2 separate regions of the Homo sapiens genome follow, and region 2 is reported to be linked to region 1. The links are microRNA targets in miRTarBase. Many come from high-throughput screens and were not tested one by one. Region 1 holds a microRNA gene; the other region holds the end of a gene's coding sequence.

The links. Region 1 holds the annotated microRNA hsa-miR-3663-5p (GCUGGUCUGCGUGGUGCUCGG, at 1,010-1,030, shown strand). A microRNA usually pairs through its seed, bases 2 to 8, with sites in the 3' UTR of a target mRNA and lowers its output. Matches are read on the target gene's strand: a 7mer-m8 pairs with bases 2 to 8, a 7mer-A1 pairs with bases 2 to 7 and ends in A, and an 8mer does both.
Region 2: the mRNA of RCSD1 is a reported target of hsa-miR-3663-5p. The part of its 3' UTR that is shown has no 7-base or 8-base seed match.

The regions. Positions count from the first base shown.
Region 1 is chr10:117,165,666-117,168,763 of GRCh38, reverse strand. MIR3663 (microRNA 3663) reads left to right here and starts at 990; the gene lies at 990-1,086. The region is part of intron 1 of MIR3663HG (MIR3663 host gene); the gene reads left to right. RefSeq lists an enhancer at 2,617-3,098.
Region 2 is chr1:167,704,480-167,707,577 of GRCh38, forward strand. RCSD1 (RCSD domain containing 1) reads left to right here. Exons shown (of 7, transcript NM_052862.4): 7 at 185-3,098. The coding sequence ends at 217. Among named protein-coding and RNA genes, the nearest start is that of TRP-CGG1-1, 8.7 kb to the right of the region's middle. RefSeq lists a silencer at 793-1,087 and an enhancer at 2,669-2,868.

The sequences.
Region 1 (3,098 bases):
GGTGGACAAGAGGGTGTTTGGTGGTGGTTGGGAGTCCCGGCGATCTTTTTAAAATTCAGATGCCAACAGTTCTCCACCCCTGAACTTGAATGGGCTTTGGGTTTTTGTTTATTTGGGGCTTTTCTCCTCTTCCAAAGCACAGCGCTTGCCCCCAGCGGCCTGGCGTCGGGCTGGAGCCCGGCAGAGGGAGGGAGGAGACCGGCATCCGCGCTCGCTGATCAGAGAGAGCCGGGCCTGCTGCTGGGGAACGTGGAGGGGCTCCGGACAGCCACGCGCCCTGGCCGGTCACGGAAAGCTCTGAGGGACATTCGGTCGGCCGTCGGGGAAGAGGCTGGCCGCCGCAGCGCGAACTGGGGGTGCGGGTGGAGCGGCTAGAGGCGCCGGGGTGAGTGGGGATGGAGCCCCGAGGGCGTGGTGCGCGCTCGGCTTCCTGCCGCCAGGGGGCGCCCACAGGCAGAGCCGGGCGGGGCGGCAGCTACAGAGAGAGGGGTGCGTGGAGAGCGACCAGGCCAGGCCTGCAGAGCGCAGCCCCGGCGCCATGTCTCCAGGCTCGTTCCGACTAGTGTTGGGTCACCCTCGGCTCAGCCCCGGGGGAGGACGAAAGGGTTGCGTGCAAGGCCTAGCACCCAGTGGCCATTCATTAAATACGTGCTGGCTGACGAGCTCAGGAACGGCTCTAGGGAGCAGCTGGCTCGGAAACCTCAAGTCCAAGCCCACTCATTCCCGTCTCCCTCCCCGACGGCCTTTTAGTTACCGTGCCCTGGGCCGCGACGGCTTCCTTTTAGATTGGGGCAGCAAGGGAGCCCCTGCGCAGCGAGGACGCCGACGGGGCGGCGGGGAGGGGTTGTCCGGCGGTATCCCCGCTCCGTGCTCCTCGCCTTCCACTGCCTCCCCGGGACACAGCAGTCATGGCTTCGACTGTGACTTCTTAACTGGCTCCTCCCTGATCGCTGAGCTAAGCCACAGGAGAAGGGGAGGAGGGCTTCCTTCCCGGGACCTTGGTCCAGGCGCTGGTCTGCGTGGTGCTCGGGTGGATAAGTCTGATCTGAGCACCACACAGGCCGGGCGCCGGGACCAAGGGGGCTCGACAAGAGGATCTCAGAACAAGCTGAGTCTCTGGAACTAGCTGGGGTGCGTGGAAGTACGCGCCACGGCCCGCGATTCCTGGGAGCGTGTCTCAACTTCTGCCAGTGCCAACGCAGGAGAGAGAATTGCGGCTCAGAGAGGGTAGCGTGAATGGAAACCGAAGGGCGAGAGCTTGGCTCTCTAATGCCACCCAACTTAGTGGTTCAGAGCTTGGCCTCCAAGGAAGATTCAGTTCAAGTCCCCGCTCTCCAACTTACCAGCTGTGTGATCTTGGGGGAAGTTAACCTCTCTGAGTCTGTTTCCTGCTCTGTAAAATGGAAATTTAAAAACTTAAACATCTACTTCGGTCGAGGCTGTTGTGAAGAAGTGGGATTGTGGGTGCATAGCTCTTAGCACAGTGCCTGGCACAGGTTAAGGCTGGATACGTGGCAGCTGTGAGGCCCAGTGTTCTCGTAGCTGGCCTGGCCAGATGCAATCATAAGCGAAGATGACTCACTTCCCACAGCAGAGGTGTGCGAAGCCCTGCGCACCTGCTGTAGTCTGCACCCGGGCAGAAGAGAACCCAGGAGCGTCGGGACCTCCAACACTCAGCCCTCAGGGCTGAGGACACTGCGCTGTTTCTGCCCCTTCTAAAACCGGAGGCCGCGATGCCCCTGTGCAGTACCGGCTGGCGCCCACCCTACAAGCTGATTCCTGGGGGCCTTTCCTGCAGCGGACGCCGGCAACCATCACGACCGACCTTGACTGAACACATGTGGGCATCCTAAGGACATTACCTCAATCCTCACACCATTCCTGAAAAAAAAAAAAACAAAGAAACTGGTGCTCAGAGAGGCGAAGTAACTCACTCAAGGTCACACAGCTAGAGGGTGGCCAAGCTGGGACTCCAACCCACTCTGGCTCCGGAGCTGGCGCCGCTTCCTTCCTACCTCTCTATCAAGCTCAGTCTCAAAGCCTGGGACAAACCATCCGGTTGGGGTGGGAAAGGCCACGCACGTCCTGGGGTCGAGGACCCTGTGCCCACGACAGCAGTCTTCTCGGCACCCGTAGAAGCCAGTGCCAGACAAGTTGGGTTGGAAGGGGCAGGCTGGGCTGGCGGAAGGGGGCTCTGGGCCCCGCCCTGCCTGCGCCCCCCGCGGATCACGCCTCCGTGCTCAAGCTCCTGCCAAGTTTGCCCCCATCTCTCAGGTGCCCTTGGACTGAGTGACTAAGCACCTCGGCACCTCTCCAGCCTGGGGTGCGAGGAGGGGCTGGCCCTGATACCCACTTCCTTTCTTCTCTGGAAAGCCAAGGTGCCAACGAAAGATGCCCTGGAAGCTGGTGTTCCTTAAAGAATGAACAGTCCCAGCTCCAAACGTGTCTCTCTGAACGCAAGCCTCTTCCTTCCGTTCGCCTGGGCCTGTAGTCGAAGTCTCCTTGGGTCCCCAGCCCCCTCCCGGGTAGACGTCAGCCTGGAGGTGGATGCCGGAGTCGAGAAGGGTTGCGGACCATGCTGGGGACCTGGCTCAGGCAGTCAGGGGTCCGGGTCCTCTTTGGGGAAGTGAGCGCTTGAGGAGGAGGGAGAAAGGCTTTTGAGTACGGCTTGGGGGGACTTCTTGAGGTCCCTCGGGATAGCTTCTCTGTTAGGCGTGTAGCCAGGAAAGGAGAAAAAATCTGTCCCGCGCAGCCCAGGGAGGAGCCTTGCAGCTGCGGAGGGGGGCACTTTCGGCGCTGGATACCAGGGGGCAGTGCTGCGCAGCGAATCTGCCGGGCTCCAGCCGGCAGCCCGGGGCAGCAAGTTTGCTGAATTCCCTCTGTCTCTCGAATCCGCTACGAAGTTCCTCCCAGGGCGCTCCTGACGCCAACAGCCCCCTCGCCCCGTAACATGCGAAAGAGGGCACGGTCCTCTCTGTCCGCGCGTTGCCGTCGGTGCGGGCGTCCTGGCTGTCTTTCCTTGGTAAAGGCAGCTACCACCGGGTTGGTTTTTGACCACTGACTTGGCCCTAGGGAAACGTAAGGTGGGGTGGCGGGGT
Region 2 (3,098 bases), not on the chromosome of region 1:
AGGATTAAATAAGTCAATGCATAAAAAAAACTAAGTTGGGCACATAGCATTCTTATGACTATCATTCTTACTATTACTCCTACTGTTACTATTATTGCCAGATCCATCATCCCCAAGGAGGGATGCTGAGTGTCAGGATTTCCTCACCATTTTCCTAATTAATTCTTTCCTCCCCTGTTCACAGGATGACACTCCTGTCCAGGACACTAAAATGTGAAGAACAGCTCATTGTGCCCCAGTGATGAAGTTGCTGGACACATCTCTTTGCAGGTAGCAGCAACAGTTGTAGCAGCAGCAGACGAAGCCATTGCAGAGGCAGAATATGCTGAGTGTCTGGAGTCAGCCTGAAGACACAGGGTGGATTATTTCCTGGCCTCCACACCAAACGTTCCCTTGCAGATGGAGACTGAATCTGAGGGCAGCAGACTTTTATCAGCTTGAGTTTATGTCATTTGATGGACTTGGTTCAACAACAAGAACTTACTTAAAACAATGTACTGTGGTGATGAGTCCCAGGGGCACTGGTCAGCCTGTGGAGCCCTGGATGCTATCCACACCCACCTATCCCTGCAGCTAATTTAGCTGATCTCTAATTTAACTGAGCTCTAATTTAGCTGATCAGATTTTGCTTGGGTAAAGTTCCTTTTTAATGTTCTAAAGTGTTTACGGTTCTCAAATATCAGTTAAAAACTAATTTTAGGTGGCCATAAACATAAAATAGAAACCCTGTAAGTTACAGAAGACCCTAAATTGTATCAAAACCCTAGAGACAACTTTTCAATTTGATCCAAATTTGAACTGGCCAACCAGTCTTTAAAACACTGGACTAGAAGAGATAATGATTGAAACATTTAAAAAAAAAAAGTGCTCCATTCGCAGGAGCTTTTCCTGTCCTGTGGTTTTCCAGTTGGTGACCACCATGGGAGGTCGCTGGCTCGGCTCACTCCCTTCTCCCACCCTTGAGAATGTGGAGAACTCCCATGGAGAGGCAGAATGGCAGGAGGTTTCATGTCCCGCGTTGCATCTCCTCCTGAAAGAAAAGCAGTGATACCTGAATAATGCTGGCTCTCCGATTGATCCTGTGAGGATGAATTTGCATTTCCAGAATCCTTGAGCATGGATTAGATGTTTCCTGGGAGGTGCCTTGAGTACCATTATGTGCAAGCTACATAATTAAAACATTTTTCTTAGTTTCCCTGGGAAGCTTTTCTTGACTCACAGCCCAGGTTCTTCTGCCCAACACAAAAGGAGTGAGTTGGGGTCTTTAGTCTCTTCTTATTGGGTAGCTCTTGCTTTAATATTCTGTTTGGTGAGTGTAAGGGATTCTGCAAGGGACAGGGGGCCTGACTACCCAGTCTTTGACTTGTATCCTCTCCCCTCTTCATACACTCCTGCTGAAAAATGTTAATCCAAATACACATTTAAACTTAGGGTCGGTCCTTATTCTGATTTGAGTATTTTAATGTCTCAGTGTGCTGATTTGGTAGTTGGAAGAATTATTCTTCTGGAGGTCTGTTAGACTACATCCTACACTGACTTCAGAAAACAGTCTGTCAGACAAAAAGGCCTTATGTCACCACTGGTACCTCAGTTTCCTCATCCCATTTACAGTTTTTCTAACTCCAGGGTAGTGTTTAGTGTTAATATTTGGGATATATTTTTTTTCAAAACTGTTTTTAAGTAGTTTGTAATTTGTAACAAACTTGTAACCTGGTTGGGACTGATATTGTCATAGCTATGATAAACTTTGGATATTAGCAGAATTTGGGAGATGTGTGTGTCAATTATTTTGAGATCTATAAACTTGTCTGTCTATCTATCTAGCTGGCTAGCTTGCTATCAATCTAGCTACCATCCATTTATTGACAGAGAAGTCTACCCCTAAACAATACTTGGTTTTATTTATATATGTCTTTGGGTTGTTTATACACATGCACTATCTGGGCAAGTACTTTGTGAATATGTGCATGATTGTGAATGTGTGATGAAAAGGGCCACTTTACTTGAGGAAGGCATGGAACAGAAAGTATGGGGTTTAGATATGAAAAATGAAACTGCATTTTTCTTCTGGAGGGTCTAAACATAGTAGCAGACGAGAGAGGGGCAGTAAAAATGACAAGAATGTGACATTGCGGCACCATGCTTGTGGGCATCAGAATACCTTTCTATCCCCCAAGTCTCCTGTTAGTCACATTATTTGGTGTATTTTGTGAAAAAAATAGAGGCCCCATTCCCAGGGCTTGTTCATTAATAAAGGGGGCTCTTGGCAGGGAACTCATGAAGTACAGGGACTGATTTTTGTTGGTGCTGCAGCCCCACTGCTTAAAACTCTCCTTTCTCAAAGCAACCATGATCAGGTGTTTTATTTGCATGGTTGATACTGGAACTTCTAAATTTGGGATTAAAGAAATTCATCTGTGTCTTAGGTAGCACAAAGTTATTAACAGGCCAGGAAGACCTTGTTTCTTTCAGGCTTCCATAATGGGTTTGAAAGAAAACACGGATTCTTCTACAGCAACAGAGTTAAAGAAATAGTCATAGTCATTCTTCCACGATCTTTGTAGTCTAGCTTGAATTTCAAACTGTGTCCTTCCTTACTCCAGAGAGGGAGCAAGAAAAAAAACCTGGATGCTTTGAAGGGATCTGCCACTATTTAAAAGGGGATTAGGATTCTGTTTCAGCTGCATGTGGAACTAGGTAAGCTTCAGTGGCCTCAGAACTCCAGGCCCCTCACGGAGATCACCCTGAACAATGCCCAGTTTTTCATGCAGGTTTTGTCCTATGACCAGTTAACTACATGTTCAATAAATAAATGTCAAAGAAATAAATGCGTGAAAAGGCAACCAGTTCATCATCTTATGATTAGGTTTTCTTGATTAGGGATGTGTTTAGTACAGCTGAATGAACAAGTTCACCCAGCTGCTGGTGACAGAAACCCAACTCAAACTAGCTGATGAAAAACAGAACTATACAGATCAATGAATCTCTCCCCCTTTTTCAGCCTCATAGAACTGAAAAAAACAAACCTAAATACAGTCACCCAAGTGATGTCAGGAATCTCTCATGGTATTGGTCTCTGCTTTCCCTCGTATTGGCCA